Linked DNA regions of Homo sapiens: regions 1 and 3 are each linked to region 2. The links come from fine-mapping of genetic effects on gene expression. A gene starts in region 2. Each other region holds a variant in brackets. All regions are shown on one strand. Distances are between the middles of the regions.

What was found. PIP is the estimated chance that this variant, and not a neighbour inherited with it, causes the effect.
Region 1: its variant is the best candidate, but not a certain one, in a credible set for the expression of ADARB2-AS1 in spinal cord (GTEx, PIP 0.64).
Region 3: its variant is the best candidate, but not a certain one, in a credible set for the expression of ADARB2-AS1 in spinal cord (GTEx, PIP 0.90).

Annotation. Positions count from the first base shown.
Region 1 is chr10:1,547,285-1,553,346 of GRCh38, forward strand. All of the region lies in intron 1 of ADARB2 (adenosine deaminase RNA specific B2 (inactive)), which reads right to left. The region is part of intron 1 of ADARB2-AS1 (ADARB2 antisense RNA 1); the gene reads left to right. Among named protein-coding and RNA genes, the nearest start is that of ADARB2-AS1, 24 kb to the left of the region's middle. RefSeq lists an enhancer at 4,920-5,447. The variant A/C (reference allele first, on the strand shown) is at 2,920.
Region 2 is chr10:1,523,383-1,529,444 of GRCh38, forward strand. It overlaps ADARB2-AS1 (ADARB2 antisense RNA 1), which reads left to right and starts at 3,248. Exons shown (of 2, transcript NR_033387.2): 1 at 3,248-3,517. All of the region lies in intron 1 of ADARB2 (adenosine deaminase RNA specific B2 (inactive)), which reads right to left.
Region 3 is chr10:1,718,086-1,724,147 of GRCh38, forward strand. All of the region lies in intron 1 of ADARB2 (adenosine deaminase RNA specific B2 (inactive)), which reads right to left. Among named protein-coding and RNA genes, the nearest start is that of ADARB2, 16 kb to the right of the region's middle. The variant A/G (reference allele first, on the strand shown) is at 3,519.

The DNA.
Region 1 (6,062 bases), 24 kb after region 2:
AGAGGCTGTGCAAATCTATGTACTGTGTTGGGGGAGAGAGAGGCTGTGCAGGTGTATACACTGTGGGGAGGGAGAGAGGCTGTGCAGGTCTATGTACTGTGTTGGGGGGAGAGGCTGCACTGGCGTATGCACTATGGGGAGGGGGAGAGAGGCTGTGCAAGTCTATGCACTGTGTTGGGGGGAGAGGCTGCACTGGCGTATGCACTGTGGGGAGGGGGAGAGAGGCTGTGCAAGTCTATGTACTGTGTTGTGGGGGAGTGGCTGCACTGGTGTATACACTGTGGGGAGGGGGAGAGAGGCTGTGCAAGTCTATGCACTGTGTTGAGGGGAGAGGCTGCACTGGCGTATGCACTGTGGGGAGGGGGAGAGAGGCTGTGCAAGTCTATGCACTGTGTTGGGGGCAGAGGCTGCACTGGCGTATGCACTGTGGGGAGGGGGAGAGAGGCTGTGCAAGTCTACGCACTGTGTTGGGGGGAGAGGCTGCACTGGTGTATACACTGTGGGGAGGGGGCAAGAGGCTGCACAGGTGTATACACTGTGGGGAGGGGGAGATAGGCATTGGTTTGTCATTGCAGGACTGATCTGAAGGCCAGAGCCAAGACTCAGGGCAGGGCTGTTGGGAGGCCCCTGACAGGCCTGGGAAGGCCTTGCCTGGTCACAGTGTTTTGTGGGCCTGAGGATTCAGGACACGTGGTACTTGCTTGACCATATAGTTTATTTTAATAATGGAATTATAGAGAATTTCTGTTTTCCCTCTGGGAGGCTGGAGTCTGAGCTGCTGTGGTCTGTCACACAGACACTGCCTCCCTAAGTGACTGACCCTCAATAAAAACCTTGGACGCCGAAGCTCAGGTGAACTTTCCCAGCTGAACCTTGGACCCGGAGGCTCAGGTGAGTTTTCCAGCTGGTGTCATTGCACACATTATCACCATCATTTCTGGGGGAACTAAGCCCATTCCCGCAACTCACTGGGCAAGGATGTCTGGAGGCAAATGCCTGGATTCTCCTTGTTGTCACCCAGGCTCCCCTCCCTTCGCTGGTGACAATTTGTGGACTTTCACAATGTTAAACAATGGCTGCTGGTGCGCCAGCCCTACCCAGTGAGTACCAGTGAGTACAGAGCCTGAGGGGGGTTTCGGGGACCCCCGGCATAGCCAAAGACCCCTTCACTGACATGGTGAATACACTGTGTAGGTCCAGAGACAGTGATGACAAACTAAGTTTCACAGACTTTGAATTTGGGAAGGCCAGTGAGATATCGCAGCCAAGATACCCCAGAGGCAGTGGAGCAGGGTGAATAAAGTCTCACTAGAGGGTCAGATTTGGCAAATGCGTGGGTTGCAGTTGAAGCCACAGATGTGAATTGCCGTCCAGTAAGTGTAGGGGGAGTAAAGATCTAGGATAAGGAGAGAAAGAGAAACTGGCACTGACAGAAAGAAACAGGAAGAGAAAAAGCTGACAGAAACTACATGGAACCTACCACACTCAAGGGAGGTTGGCTAATGGTGTCACGTGATGCCAGGACACCTGGCGAGTTAGGAACCTGGGAAGAGTTATTTTGTGACCTGGGCTGACAGTTTTATTAAAAGGGACAAGTGAGTGGCCAGAGTGTGAGGGGCCGAGGCAGGCCTGGCAGGAATGAGGGTGGGCTGTTAAGGTGATCTGGCTGGGCCACAGGGGCGGGGGAGAGAGGCGTTGGTTTGTCATTGTTCTTGAATTAAGCATGTTGAGTTGCCAACTACAAGATGCTAAAAGAGAGGGAGAATCTGAAGACGTCTGAGGGGAACTGCAGCCGGGTTTCAGTACAGGGTGGGAGCAGAGGCTGGCGTCCGGTACACGGAGTTCGAAACACTAGGGGGGAATCACTTTAGCTGGGGGGTCCCCTCCTCTCTCACTGAAAGGTGGAGTGGGGTGGGGCGTGGAGCTGGGGGGGTCCCCTCCTCTCATTGAAAGGCGGAGTGGGGTGAGGCATGGAGCAGACATGGCTGAGTGTGTAAGTTGGAACTCAGCAGGCAAACAAGTTTCCTCAAAAAAATTCGACTGTCTCTGTTTAGCAGGGACACAAGGCGCTCTTTTTGAAAGCCCTGGGAGTGGATGGATTGTGATTCATCTTTGTTATTTGATTATTCCAAAGGTATATTTGTGGGAGAAATGCAGGAAGGAAGGAGGGAGACGGGAGGAGGGTGCAGGGGTGAGCAGGGTGCCCGGGGTTGGTGTTTCCACCCAGTGGCATGGATTTGTCCTGATTGTGCTAAGAGAAGACGCTGCCTCCTTTTCTTCCTCCGAGACCCACGCATGGTCAAACAGTTTAAATAAGAGGCGAACGCAATGCAGAGCACGGCACTGAGAGAGCTGCGTAAGAGAGAACGCAATGCACTCTTCCTCCTCATTGTCACAGAGTTGGCCAAACCCATTGTCCCCATCCTCTAGACTCCAAAACCGATGCCCTGGAAAGGCAGGAGATATCACAGGGTGCCCAGCGGGACAACCCGATCCCTGTTCAAGCGTGGGAACCACCCCAGACCCTTCCTTCCAGCCAACTGCGATCCCGGAGAGACGGCAGCCAGGAGAGCCTCTCACCCCCTCTCCTGGGTGCTGGGTCTGCAGCGTGAGATTAGATGGAGCTCTCTGTGCCCATCCAGGAAGCCTTGAGTTTCTGTTAATATGCAATACAAGCTTACAATAGAGGGAATCCCTCCAAAACACAACACACCATATTGTTTATAAGAGGCTACCAGGGACTGAAAAGTAAACACAAAAAGACAAACAAAGTCTTCCCTACACCCAGCAGGGCCAAAGAGATTTTTCCCTCTTTCCAATAAGCTCTGAGAAATGGGGTCCCTGCTCCCCACACCACAGCCCACACCTGGAACCCCTCCCCGCTGCAGGCTGCCCGGCCACCTGCTCCACTGTACTCGG[A/C]AAACACACAACTACATTTTGTTTGTTTTCCTCTCTGGGCCTCTGATCGAATTTTTAAGCACCTCCTTGTTGCTTTATTCTCCCTGAATTTCCTGGAAGTGCTAACCTCAAAGTACCACGGAAAATGCCTTCCTAGAGTACCTTTGGCCTGACACGGCGAACAGCAGCTATTTTCTGAGAAAGCTCATTCTTTGGAGAGTCTCAGTGTAATTGCACTGATTGTGCTGGCTCTGGAAACCTCAGAGCCACCATAGGTCTTTGAAAACCAACGAATATGAGTCAACACATTTTTGCAGCTAATGACGCTCTCTAGTTGATGAAAGCCGATGGCCCACATGGCCCAATTTACCACGATTTACTGGAGATATAAATGGCATGAACCTCAGGCCCCTTCAGGGAGGTTGCAGCCACACAGACCGACACTGGAGAGGTTTTAGTGTAATGCAGTCTCATGGCTTTGGAGTGAAAGGAACTGATTTTGGAATTTGTTAGGGTCGTGGGAGCTAGAAGAGATTTGGAGACCAGTAGATACCTCTGTTGTACAGACAAGAAAGCCACAACCCCGAGTGCTTAGTCATTTGGCAAGAGTGAAGGTGAAGAGATGGTAGATCTAGAATGCAGAGTCTCCGCCTAACGGTCCCCGCGCTTCCCAGGCCGCCGTGCGAGCCCTGTTTGTGCCGCAACAGGAAGAATGGTGTGGAGTTCGGAGACTAAAGGTGCACTGTGCTTTTAAAATAAAAAGGACGGCAGAAAAGGGGCTGTTCTGGGCTGTATTCGGCCCTGTCAAAATTCACACGTGGAAACCCTGACTCCCAGGACCTCAGAAGGTGACAGTGTTTGGAGATGGTGTCCTTACAGAGCTGATGAAGATAAATGAAGTCATATGACTGGACCCTGGTCCAACCTGCCTGGTGTCCTTATAAGAAGAGGAGATGAGGACACAGACACACACAGAAGGAGGACCCTGTGAGGACACAGAGAGAAGACGCCATCTGCAAGCCATGGAGAGGCCTCAGGAGGAACCAGGCCCCTGGACACCTTGATCTCGGGTTTCCAGCCTCTCTGACTGTGACAACGTGAATGTCTATTATTGAAGCCACCTGGGCTGTGGTCTTATGACAGCCCCAGGAAACTTATAGGAGCCAGCTAAATTATTCTCCACTTGCTTAAGAGAGGAAAACCTGTTGTCCGGGCTGCCACAGTGGTAAAGTCCTTCTCACCTTCACCCAGACAGTTTCTCAATGATCCAGAAGATGCAAAAGAGGCAGGCTCGAGCAGGACTGCACTGCCAGGAGCAGGCCTCACACTTTCCCTTCCTGGGCGGCTGTCCCTCTGCCCGCCCTTCCTGCCATCCCTCTATTGTAGAACTGGTAAAACTTCCATTATTATTTTTAAAGCAAAAATAAAATAATTTTAAGGTCTTTCTTCCAATGACATCTCACCTGGTAACCCAGAAATGAAACAAGAAAACAGAGGGAGCACCTGAGGCGCCAGGGCCTGGGATTGGCTCCAAAATCCCCTTCCTGCCCCTCTGGTGGCCGATGGGCCCCAGGTCCAGCGATGGCCAAATCGAAGGTCCTGCCGGGCTTCCGGCTCTGAATGTCTCCGGGACACAATGTACCAAATAGACAGGTGCTCTGAGAAGTGAGGGCTGAGCTGGGCTTGTCAGAATGTGCTGGGAAAGGCAGACAGAATGGGACTGACTGGCCTTTATACTGCAGACATGGAGTCCTGGCCTCAGGAGGGGCAGCGTGGCCACCCCAGGGGGGCGGAGTGAGGTGAGTGAGGCTGAGCGGCTCCAGGTGGCCTCCTGCGTGGAGGCCAAGCCCTCCTCCCGCATGTGGCCTGAGCCTCCTCCCTCGCAGCCGATCACAGAACCATACAGTCCCAATCCTGCCACCAAGTCATTATCAATCAGGGGTTAAAGGCTGCTCCTGGCCACTCCCACTCCGAGCAGGTGGCTCTGCAGCCCCCAGGATGCCCATGGGGGGAGCTGGCCTGGGGCCAGGAGCCTTTCCTTTGCAGCTCATGGACTGCACTCCAGGGCAGCTGTGGCCTGTGCCGTGTAAGTGGATACAGCCTCGGGTTTCACTGCACGCTCCCTCCTCTCTGGCTAGTTTGGGGCCCTGTCCTTGGGGCATTAGGGGCATGAAATGCCTGCAGACCCACGGGTGATGCCTTTTAGAGAGTGGGTGAAGAGAAGTGGGAGGCACAGCCCCAGTGCTCACCCCAGGGGGCCGGAGGGAGCAGGATCTGTGTGTTCACCCCACAGTGGCTCCAGAGAACATGGGCGGCTGTCCTGCCTGGCACTCAGTGAGGGGCTGCCAAGGTCGGCTTCAGGGAACAGTCAATCAACACATCTACTGGGGACAGGAGGAGGGAGGGAAGGGGAGAAGAGGGCGTGAAGAGCCTTTTTCTGGCCTGGTCCTGCCCGGCACTCAGCGAGGGGCTGCCAAGGTCGGCTTCAGGGAACAGTCAATCAACACATCTATTGGCGACAGGAGGAGGGAGGGAAGGGGAGAGGAGGGAGGGAAGGGGAGAGAAGGGCTTGAAGAGTGGCCCTGGAGTCAGAGAGCACCTTCCTCTGGCCTGGTCCTGCCGGACACTCACCCCTGGCGGAAATGGAATGGATCCTTGTGGTCTTGGCAGGTATTTTATTGGCCTAGATTTTCTGTATGTTTTGGTTTTTACCTCCTGTGGAACGGAACCCTTAATTAATTCGTTTAGTCACTCATTCAGCAAATGTTTGTCAGGATCTTTGAGGCAGAAACTGTATGTCACCCCCATGGTCTGTGCCCAGTCACTGTGGGAACATCCTGGGACATGGGGGGAGAGCAGTGTCACCCGCAGCTCCCTGCCGGAGACCCTGCCCCATTGCTGGGAGCACCGCGTCCTCGCAGCCCAGGCCAGCACCATCTCTGAATGCTACCAGACACCAGGTGGCTCATAACATTGGGAAATGACTGTTTTAATCGTTAATTACCAAAAAAATGTCACTGTGCTGGTACAATATATGCGGTGATTTCTGTCATAAATTGACATCTGTAAGTCATAAATTGCTTAGTTTTAGCTGCTTTTAATGGCTGAATTTTCCCAAGCTACATGGTGCACACATTTTGGATCAAGTTCAAACTCTTCTGGCA
Region 2 (6,062 bases):
GTTACAGGGTTAAGTTACATGCACGTCACGCAGCCCTGAGCTGGGGAAACCAAGAACAAAGCCCCTATGCTTGCTGGGCCATCCCACCCCCTCACATTAGATTTGCTTAAAGAACCTGCCAGAGGCTTCGTCTGGAATAGCACCTCGGTCTCATTCATCTCTATCACGAGTTTCTGCATTTTGACCATGAGCCTGTTCCAACATTTCAGATTCTCCACTCATCATTAAAATAACTTTATTCCAACCTTGCAGCTTCCAAATTAATACTGACTCTTTCCTTATCAGAAACAAGCAATGATTTAGAGTATCACTGAAATAAAATCAAAATGTTTTACCTTGAGGCTTAATTCTCTCTAAAATCTAGTCAGATGCTCCCCATCCCAGTTTCACCATTATATCAGCACAAATCTTGAACATTTCATTTTCTAATCTGTCATCCTTTTAATCTCCTATTTTATAAATGCTCTTTTCTGTATAAATGGCCTGCATATTATAAACAGTATTGAATAGCTTGTTTCTTTCTCTAATCAACCTGATCTGTCTACTCAATATCCACCCATGCATCCATCCATCCATCCATCCATCTACTCATTCATTCACCTATTCATTTTTTAATTAAGCATTTCATTAATTTATTCAGCACTTACTATATTCTAGACAGTATCCTGGGGATATGAAGATAGATAGATAGATAGATAGATAGATAGATAGATAGATAGATTAGAGAGAGAGAGAATAGATGATAGGTAGATAATTCTTTGTCACTATCTTTAAGGTACACAAAATTTTGTAGGAGAGTCTGAGACATACAAACTTCTTATAATACAATGAATGTATTTGGTGCAATAGAGCAAAAATAGGGTCAGGACTTTATGACTACTAAGCCTCACAGGTGTTTTGATGCCTATGGAATCACCACATATAAGTCCCACTAATTCAGTCGCCATTTGTGACTAACGTGTCCAATACTCAGTAGGAAAGATATAAAAGAAAATAATTAGAGTTCCTTAATATCTCTTTGGTCCACCAGCAGGCATCCATGTTTGTGATCTTCTGGGCAATTTTCAGACCTGCTGGCATCACAAGTTCCTCCAACCAGACTTGGATAATGGGTCAATCAGCAAGAAGCACTTTTCCTGAGCCCAAGTTCTAAAACCTCCACAGCAACAGCCCTAATGAAAAATGTAGTATCTCCCACTTCTCCTTTCTATTGCCTTTTTGTTTGGTTTTCACAGGAATCTATTTCTGAGTGTTTGCTGTAGGCAGACACTTTCCTCATCTCCACCTTTGATTACGAGAACAGCACAGCCCGGTGGCTGCCCGGGGGGAGGTGGTAGGCAGGGTCAGAGTGCACACGCGCGTGTGTTCATGTGTGCTGTGTACAGGTGCTGTGAGGGTCCAGGAACTGCTGGCTATCACAGTGAGCGGTGACACAAAGGCCTGTAATTCTATGTTGAGAATAATATTTCCAGCCTAGAACTAGCAGTCTGGCTGGAATGAAATACACAGAAAATAGTCAGGATAGTCCAATCTATGTCTGAGCCTCCAGATTTAAAGATAGTTTATATCCACAAATACATACTGCTATGTCTTTTTACCTTTCCATTTTCACAGCTAGCTGCCAATTTAAGTAAGCATCCTTGCTTTAGTTAAGGGCTTTAGTAATAAAATAATAATAATAACTTCACGAACAGGAAGAGATTCTATAAATCCTGAGTTTCATGCCAGGAAACCACCCCAGAAAACACTTTTTGTACTAATAGCTGTAAAAAAAGGTCAGGTACCTGACTTAAATAATTGCTTTCCTTTTTGTATGTTTGGGGGAGGAGGAATTTCTGGTTCTACTTGTAACACGTGCATATGAGGTTACACAAAGATTTCTTTCCTGGAAAACTGGAAATAAGCATAATCAAAACTGTAAAATGATCAAATACTGGTGCAATTATTTTCTTCAGGAATCTCACGATTTCATCTGCGGGAGTGGATCTGAAATCTAAAATCTGAAAACATTTATTTCACTTTATGATTCTTTTTATTCCACATTCTTCTCTAATTTTTTCCTTGACTGAAACATTGGTATCTCTGTTTCTCATGGTCTCTCTTCGCCTCAGCCGTGCAGTTCTGTGGGTATCTAGGGGGCCTTTTCAGTTCAAAGTACATCAGCAGCCCGACGCTGGTGGTCCACGTTTTCCTGTCGGCTCTGTGGGTTGCATCTGTGTCCTGTTACCTCGGAGGGGTTGTATGTGCGTCCTGAGAGGAAGACAGCCTGGGAAGACAGGGTGGCTTGCAGAAGACGCCCACCATTTGCACAGAGCTAGCCGAGGCAGCTGGCCTGAACATGTGTGCATGCGTGTGCGTGCATGTATGGGTGTGTATGTGTATGCTCATGTGCTTGTGTGTTTATGTGTGTGTATGTGCGTATGTGAGCATGTACGTGTGTGCGCATGTGTATGTTCATGTGCTTGTGTGTGTGCGCGTGTCTGCGTGCGTTTATGTGCGTGTATGTGCATGTGTGTGAGCGTGTATGCTCATGTGCACGTGTGTCTGTGTGTGAGCACGTATGGGTGTGTGTGCGTGTGTGCTTATGTGCGTGTGTGCATGCATATATGTGCATGTGCATGTATGCACGTGTTTGTGTATGTGTGTATGCGTGCATGTGCATCTGTGTTGAGGGGCTGTTGCTCAGGAAGCGAGGGACAGGGCATGTCCTAGGTAGAGACAGCTTTCTGGGGAAAGCCTTGTTCTAAGGCAGCAGGGCGGTCTTGCACTTGCGCGGCTGCTCCTGGGATTTGGAAAGGACACAGGTGGGAAGTTGGAGAGATGGCCTGGGGCAGGTGGGGTAGGTGGGGCAGGTGGGGCAGATGGGGCAGGTGGTGCAGATGGGGCAGTCATTAACGAGCATGCCTGGAACCCCATCCCTAGTCTTGTAGAGGAGGCAAGGAGCTGTCCAACTGTCTCTTAAGAGTGGCACAGTCAGTGCTATGGTTTGGAGGTTTGTCCCCTCCAGATCTCATGTTGAAACGTGATCCCCAGTGTTGGAGGTGGGGCCTGGTGGGGGATGCTGGGGTCAGGGGTGGATCCCTCACGATTATCTTGGTGCTGTCCTCCTGGTTATGAATGAGTTCTTGCTCTGTGTGTTGCAGTGAGAGCTGATTGGTAGGAAGAGCCTGGCCCCTCCCACCGCCTCTCCCACCACGTGATCTCTGCACAGGCCGCTCCCCTCCCCATCGGCCACGAGTGAAGCTTCCTGGGGCCTCACCAGATGCAGATGCTGGTGCCACGCTTCCTGTACAGCCTGCAGAGCCATGGCTGCACAAACCTTTCTTCCTCATAAATCACCCAGCCTCGGGTGTTCCTTTCTAGCAACACACACGGACTGAGCCGGATGACATGAAGCAGCTGTTCCCGCCTCCTCCTGGCACCTCCCTGACTCACGCACTTGGTGCGTGGAGGGGTCGTGAGCGGGCACAGGCAGCCACTTCGCTGCTTGCCTCATCAGCCTCACAGTTCCCCACAGGTGAGTCCTGGCATAGAAACATCCCCTGCATCTTAATTTGCATTTGTTAATAATTATGTGAAATAGAGAAAATAACTTATTTGTGCACAGCTCTGACTTCCAAACGAAACCACTCCAGCTTTTTGGAAGCTTCCGCATTTGGGGATGATATTAACCAAGTGACCACAGACGAGAGAGGCACTGCCCTTCTCTTTAACCCAGAAACTGGTCAGGAGCCTGAGGAGAATGACAAAGGGAAAGAATTCTTACAGGAACTTCTCCCTCCGCTTCCCTCAGTTTAAAACTACAGTGCTCGCCACAGAATCTCACTTCCAATTCCTTGTGGAGAACTGCTTCTTGTACTTATCGCATCCTCATTTACGATATGACTCTGCTAGTATTTTAAATACATGTCTAGCGTTCCTTATAGAGACATTCTCATCCCCACATAGATCGGTGGTTATGAGGGAGTTTTCTTTCCTATGCCTAGGATTCTGTTTTGATGATTTTTACGGGGTTTGCTTACAGTAGTAACTCAGCAAACTGCCTGATGATATTTAAAAACTTCTTCCTCCTTGATTTTCATTTTAAATCAAGCAAACACAATAATCCACAAAAACTAAATTAAAATCAATGCCCTTAACATGACTGGCAAGAAGAATGCTGTTTCTGTTGTAAGAAGACTTGCTATACATAACAGGATGATTAGAAAGACTTGCTGTAAAAAGACTTGATATACATAACAGGATGATATACATAACAGGATGATTAGAAAGTTAAAAATATAATATTGTGAGATGCTATTTGGTTTGGTAAGACGGGGGTCAGATAGTCTATCAGAATAATTTTCTTCCGTTTGATCACACATCTCATCAGAGGAGCAGGAGAGCCGTCCAGCGTGAGATATTTGAAGGGGTGTTGGCAAGAACATCAGATGGACGACAGGGGAGAGGGGCCCAGCTGCACGGGGAGAAGCCGATGAGGGATGGGTCTTTGCTGTCATCAACATTCATAAATTTATCATTCTGGATGCACAAATTAAAATTATTCACTAAGCAAGAATGCCATTGAACTGAACGTTATAAAAATCCTGGAGTAAGTAGAAAAATGCCAGGCTGATATATCTGTGCAGTAAGAGGCATATAATTCTGCCTCCATCAATAACAGCCCCCACACTTTATGGACTCCCCTCTTGGAGGTGGCTGTGAATAACCCGAATGCATGTGCAGCCTCTCGACAAACTCGTGTCCGCGGCTGTGGGCTACGTTCTCGCCAATGGCTGTGTCTTCGGCCAACACACCTGAGCTTACTGCATTAATGTTACTGTGCGATACAGCAGCTCCGCGCCTCCTGTGAGTGCCCGTGTTCACTTCCTAAACTGCTGGTCTACCCAGATTTTTAAAGGGACATATCAAATACTGTTCCTCCATTTCTGGTTCCTTTCAAGCTGCGTTGGTATCGATGTTTGGAACCCCTGGCCACATTTCATATTTATGTAACTGATCTGACAGTGCACGTGAATCTATGAGCAGTTACTTATTGAGTCCCTGCTGTATGTGAGGCTCTCAGGAAGGACTTATGGATGCGCCAAAGTACTGCTGATGATAATGGTGTGAGGAACACACTTTTACTCCTGTTTTATAGAGGTAAACCGTGGTATAGAATTTCACGTTACTTGTCTGAGGTCTTTGGTCATCCCAGCAGCGCCCGGTGTGAGCCCTCTCAAGTTCTCCATGGTTTTCCCATCACCCACACCCCTCCTGTCATGCTGGTTGATGGCACTCTTGCCCGTTGGGTGAGAAAGCCCTTTCCTGGACAGGTGATGCCCTTTGTAGTGAAAACAGTTAGATGCTGTCATGTTTGGTCAGAAGCTGAACCACAGATTTTAGAATGAGGCAATGATGGCCTGAGAGGGAAGTGGATTCTGTTGACACCAGCAGAATGTGTGGAATTGGGATTTTGAAAGTGTATTTACCCAGTGGCATGTGGTCCCAAGCGGGATCTGCCCTCTATGAGCTCCAGACTGGACTCGTCCTGCCCCTGTGGTCTGTCCCTTCCTAGGTTCCCACGGTTCTCTCTTTCCCCACAATGTAGCTTTGCTTTGGACTAGTTTTTGGGACAAGATGTTGCTTGTGAGGTGGGTCTGACTGCAGGAGCCAAGCAGCACCACCCCAACAAATCCTCCAATCAGTCCACCCACCATGCCCAACACCAATCCTCCAATCAGTCCACGCACCATCCCCAACACAAATCCTCCAATCAGTCCACGCACCATCCCCAACACAAATCCTCCAATCAGTCCACGCACCATGCCCAACACCAATCCTCCAATCAGTCCACGCACCATCCCCAACACAAATCCTCCAATCAGTCCACGCACCATGCCCAACACCAATCCTCCAATCAGTCCATGCACCATCCCCAACACAAATCCTCCAATAAGTCCATGCACCATCCCCAACACAAATCCTCCAATCAGTCCATGCACCATGCCCAACACTGCGAGTCCCCCACAGATTGAGGGGGAAGATTAGGGAAGGCGAGGACCTGAGAAATCTGACTCCCT
Region 3 (6,062 bases), 190 kb after region 2:
GGAGGAGGAAACCAAGAGGCACAAACACAGCAGCAACAGAAAGTCGCTGTTTCCATCATGCTGAGAAAACCTAACACACATCATAGGAAGGTGATGGCCGGGGCAGAAACTGAAAATATGGAATTCAAATAACTACAACTGGGGGAAACTTATATTTGGTCGTACTTTTTTGATTCTGGAGCTTAGCTCTTCCCACTCTCCATGTTCCTTGCCTGTGACTTGGAGGAATCATCCAGAACGTGGTCCCACCCACATGCATGGACGGTCAGGCTTCTGCTGGTAGGGAGGCTGCTTCCTCCCAGTGTTCTTGGGCACCTGTGGCCCCACTGCCCTGGGAACACGGTGGGGAATGAACATGCTAGCCCCCAGGGCTGACCCGAAATGTCACCCTTGCCCTTTTGTGTGTGTGCATGCCTCCGTGTGAGTCCACAATCGAGTCTCTCTGCAAATGCTGGGCTGTCCTGTACCTCCTGCCCCGCCTCCATGTCTGAGCATTGCCCCTGTGGGAGGAATGAGACAGGGAGCGGCGTTTAGAGATTGCAGCTGGCAACACGGCTCTGAGCATCCCTAAAGCAGGGGCCAGGGTCTTCACGGCTGCTTTACCTAGGGGGGCAGCACGACCCAGTTGACAGGCAGAGGCCAGGCCCCCAGGTTGTGTTTCTGACTCTGCCCTCCCAGGAGGGGGCTCCAGGCTCTGGCTTCCAGCTCCCAGGCAGGTTCTTGTGGCTGGGACTGTCCCTGAGCCTCTCGGCAAGATGAGAGACTTTGCCTTTCCATCTCAATTGATTGTGAATTAAGGAACTTTGGAAATTTACCTCGATTGTAGTGGTCAGATTTTCCTATTTTTCTTAGCTGTATAATCTGCCTAAAAGTTTATCTTTACCTTCTTTTTGTTGTTGTTGTTGTTGTTTTTTGAGACGGCTGGAGTGCAGTGGCGTGATGTCAGCTCGCTGCAACCTCTGCCTCCCAGGTTCAAGCAATTCTCCCACCTCAGCCTCCCAAGTAGTAGCTGGGATTACAGGTGTGTGTTACCATACCTGGCTAGTTTTTGTATTTTCAGTAGAAACAGGGTTTCACCATGTTGGCCAGGCTGGTCTTGAACTCCTGACCTCAGGTGATTGGCTCACCTCAGCCTCCCAAAGTGCTGGGATTACAGGTGTGAACCACCATGCCTGGCCCACCTTTACCTTCTACAATGCCCAGGGCACTACAGTCTCACACACTCCTCTATTCTCTTGCTCTCCAAATTGGGATCCCATCATTTTACACCACTGATTCTTCTCTCATGAAGTGCAACATTTCAAATCTTTGGATTTCAGAAAAAACAATGCCTTCTAAATTGAATATATGATATCTATAGAATAAACTAATTTGTTCCCTAGCTCCATTGAATCAGAAGCATTTTATACAGTGGCCTTTTGATAAAAAATTGCTAAAAGAAACAAAACCAAAAATTGGCAAATGGGACCTAATTAAACTAAAGAGCTTCTGCGCAGCAAAAGAAGCCATCAACAGAGCAACAGACAACCTACGGATTGGGAGAAAATATTTGCAAACCATGTATCTGACAAAGGTTCAGAATCTATAAGGAACCTAAATAAATCAACAAGCAAAAAACAAACAACCCTATTAAAAAATGGGCAAAGGACATGATCAAACACGTTCTCTAAAGAAGACAAACATGCGATCCACAAGCATGTGAAAAACATTGAACGTGACTAATCATTAGAGAAATGCAAATCAAAATCACCATGCAATACCATCTCATACCAGTCAGAATGGCTATGACAAAAAGTCAGAAGGTATCAGATGCTGGCAAAGCTATGGAAAAAAGAGAATGCTTATACACTGTTAGTGGGAATGTAAATTAGCTCAGCCAACTTTTCCAAAGACCTAAAACAGAACTACCATTCAACCCAGCAGTCACATTCCTGGGGGTATACCCACCCCCCACCAAATAAATTGTTCTGCTTAAAAGACACATGCACTTATATGTTCATCGCAGCACTATTCACAATAGCAAAGGCATGGAATCAATCTAGTGCCTATTGATGGTGGATTGGATAAAGAAAATGAGGTCCACATACACTGTGGAATATAATGCAGCCATGAAAAAGAATAAAATCATGTTCTTTGCAGCAACATGGATGCAGCTAGAGGCTGTTACCCTGAGAAAATTAACAGAGGAATAGAAAACCAAATACCACATGTTCTCACTTATAAGTGGGAGGTAAACACTGAGTATTCATGGACACAGGTATGGGAACAACACACACTGGGAACACTAGAAGGGTCCGGAGAAGAACAAGGATTGAAAAACTGCCAGGTACTATGCTCACTCCCTGGCTGAGAAGATCCTATACCAAACCTCAGCGACACCCAATTTATTCAGGGAAGAAACTCACACATGTTAACTGAATCTGAAATAAAAGTTGAGTATCCCCTGAATCTAAAATAAAAGTGGAAAAAAATAGGTTAACTTGTAGATGGCAAAAAAAATTGCCAAAAGAGAAATCTAGGGGCAGTCTTTATTTGAATATTTAGCAGAGTAATCGGTATTGTCTCATGGATGATGGGGTGAAATGGGACATTATTTCTACTTTGGCCCACACTGCAGGAGCATGCGGGGGCCTCTGGGCCCCTGGACACGTGGAAACCCTGTGGCAAAACATTTGGAGGAGCAGGAAGCTCACTCAAGGCAAATTTGGGGGCAGCAACTAATATCATATGGAAAAAGAAGAGGAGCTGGTATAAAAGACGTTTATTAACGTGTGTGCCCGATGTCCTGGCGCCACTGGCTCGCTGCAGTGCTTCTGTCTGGAAGGTTTTCAGAAAGCAAAGGCACCCACCTCCTCTCCCTGCACAAAGCCGCTTTGAATGTGCATCTTCCCACTGCTCGGATGAAGATGATTTCAAAAATGGGAATTCAATTGTGGAACTTTATGAGGAAGAATACAGTTAACATAACTGAAAACAAGGCCAGCACTCGCTTGAAGGAAATGCAGGAAGAGATTAATTTGACAAACCTGCATCTCCAGCTCAAGTTTGGCCTTCCTCTGCTTGAGGGGATGTCAGCAGAAAGAAGGGCCCTGGCCCCAGCAGAGAAGTTAATTCATCATCATCAAAATTATGTAAATAATTCAAGTCACTTTTTAAAAATAAAGCTATAAAGAGAAGAATACAAACCAAAATATTGCAAGAGGTGACATTTTGCTGTATGTGTTCAGATAAGACCAAACGAATGTTGACGTTGACATAAAATAATTCAGAAAGAACAAGTATCAAACACAGACTTTAAAAGTACCACCTTACTGTCAGCGTGTTTTCTATATTTTCCCAAGTAGCTTTCACCTAGTGGGATTCTATTTATACTGAATTAGGTGGGCTTGCTGTGTGCATACACATCACAGGGAGTGCAAAGACACACACACGCTGGACACATTAGTGTTAGGTACACAGATTGCAAGTGATTTCTGTTGGAAGTCAATTGGGACTTTGCACAGGAAGGTATTTTACAC[A/G]TAAAGAATTTTATGCATTATTGCAACGGCAGCAAAGCTCACAAAAGCCCATTTAAGCCAAATGTACAGAGGGCCTTGTGTGGCCTCAGTGTCACATACAATATTATCTCAATGATGTGTCTGTTCTGGACTGAGCTCTGGATCTCAGGGACACAGCATTTGTGCTTTCATCTACCCTCAGCCTTGGCCTCATCCCAGCCCTTGGTCAGTGCTCCTGGGGTCCACAGGACTGACTGGAGAGGGGTCCAGAGAAATCGTCTCCATCTGCCCCCTTGTCGAAGTTCAGCGGCATGAGAGCACCCCTCATTCCTGGTGATCAGAGATTGATACTTACTGGCTCATTGCTAATAAAATGCCACCAAGAATCGGGGATTTGTTTACTATATTTAAAGGTTTAAAATGTTTAACTATCAGAAGTCCTACCTGTGAGTGTTTATGTAAAACGACTTTATAAGTAAGATTGGGAACAGATGGGAAGAGCTATTTTAGTCAGTTGGTGTGTCATGAAATTGTGTAGACTCTATTTCACTGTAAACCCTTCGTTACACTGTGGGGGTGCTACAACGTTACAACATGTTTTCTTGGGAGGGTCGCACTTATTTAACCTTTAAATTGACATTTGGGGCACTGGTCACTTAGAGTGAGTTCAAATGTCCTGGCTATTATTGTGCATGCAGATTTATTTCTGTAATCTACTTTTCATTCACTGACTTACTGAGGTTAAAATAGAACATGCACATTTACCTGTGGCTTCAATTCCACTTTGTTTTACCAGCACTGACTCTGAATCAGTTAATCTAAGAAGTGACTTCTTGTTTATGCAGGCAAGTGGATGAAAGTATCCTCTACACAAACACACAGGGGCACACAAGGGAACGCAGTAGGTCCTCATTGTAAATCTACATGCCCGGTAACCCAAAGCATGAGTATCAACCTGATAAGCACACTTTGTAATTTTCAAATTTAGTTCCGGGTTTTATCGAATGAATAATGTGCTGTATTTCATTCCGTTTCTTGGTAGCACATCAACTTCCTATTTTTTCTATTCTTCTCTTGGGAAATAGAATGAAAAATTCCCTCACCCCTCGTCTTAATTCATTGCATTCCTTAAAGATTTTTACCTTGTGCTGTGATTAATAATTATTTTGGAATTCAATGTACTTATTATATAGATATCTGAAAAATGAAGACGTTTGCCTATCTGAATCTAGTTCAACGACCTCTGCAGTTTCCTTTAACCCTCAAATCAAAAACGTGTATTACTTAAGCAAGCAAAAGCACAGTGGAGTGTGCCTATACATACGTGTATATTTACCCATATTCATATACATGTGTACACACACACATACACGCACACACAGGTGTGCACATACACACTAAGGTGTCCTATATTCATATTCATGTGTACACATGCACATACACACACATGCACACACAGGTGTGGACAACACATGTCACTAAGGTGTGAGCTGGGCTGCACGCTATTCAGTATCTCCCTGGAAACGGGAGCGCATGCCCCTTCTCAGAAGGCCCTTGTGTGTCATGGTCCTATGATGTAGCTTTTACGGCCACTGCTAACACACTGTTTCTGAGACTTCTGTTTTAACAGCAACATGGAAGAGCTTCCAGCAGTGTCTTTTCTAAGTGGCGATTCGCTCTACATTGCCCAGAGAACATCTGCTCCTGAGTTTTGTGCTCCTGTCCTCTGGGGACCTGAGCTCTCCCCGTGGCCTTTCTGAACCCACCTGTTCAATCCTGCTCCAGGGCCTTGGTCCCTTCTTAAGCAAAGAACAGCCGGTGGGGCCGGAGGGACCAGGCTCTGATTCAGGCTTGCTCTCACCATCTCGCTTTCTTCGGTAGCCACTTGCATTCTTTGGGCCTCACTTCCCTCATCCAGGAGATAGAGACACAGTTTAGTTGATGGTGTCTTAGGTCCTTTTTACCTCCCCATAAGAGAGTTATGAAGCAGACCTTATCAAACCTGGGAAAAGAACTGTCAGCGAGAAGTGAGAACGGTCCGCTTGCCACCTGCACAGGGGACAGCAGCCCTTCTTAGAATCACCACGGTTCTCTCCATCTTTAATGAGAAATGGGCACCTTCCAAAGGGCCAGGAAGGGAGAAATCAAAAGGTGGAATGAAATAAAACTACTTACCTTCTAACCACCCTGTTAGAGGGCACCACGTGGCAAAGACATCAAGGGGAACCTAATCAGAGGTTAGTTCAATTCCAAAAGTATTTCTCACCCTGGAGACGTGATGGTTTTCTAGCAGTGATGCTACAGGGATGAAGGTGGGATTTATGAATTTTCTGGCCCTTATTGAGGTAGAGATAATGTTTCTGGGAAAAGGGCACTGATACCCTAACCGTAAGCTTTAGTTTTCAGAAAATGTTTCCGAAGGTGAATTTCTGTGGTTTTCTCTCTGTCATGGGCTGAATGGTGTTCCCCCAAAATTCATGCATTTAAGTCCTGACCTGTGGTGCCTCACAGTGTGACCATATTTGAAGATGGGGTCTTTAAAGAGGTGCGCAAGGTAAAATGAAG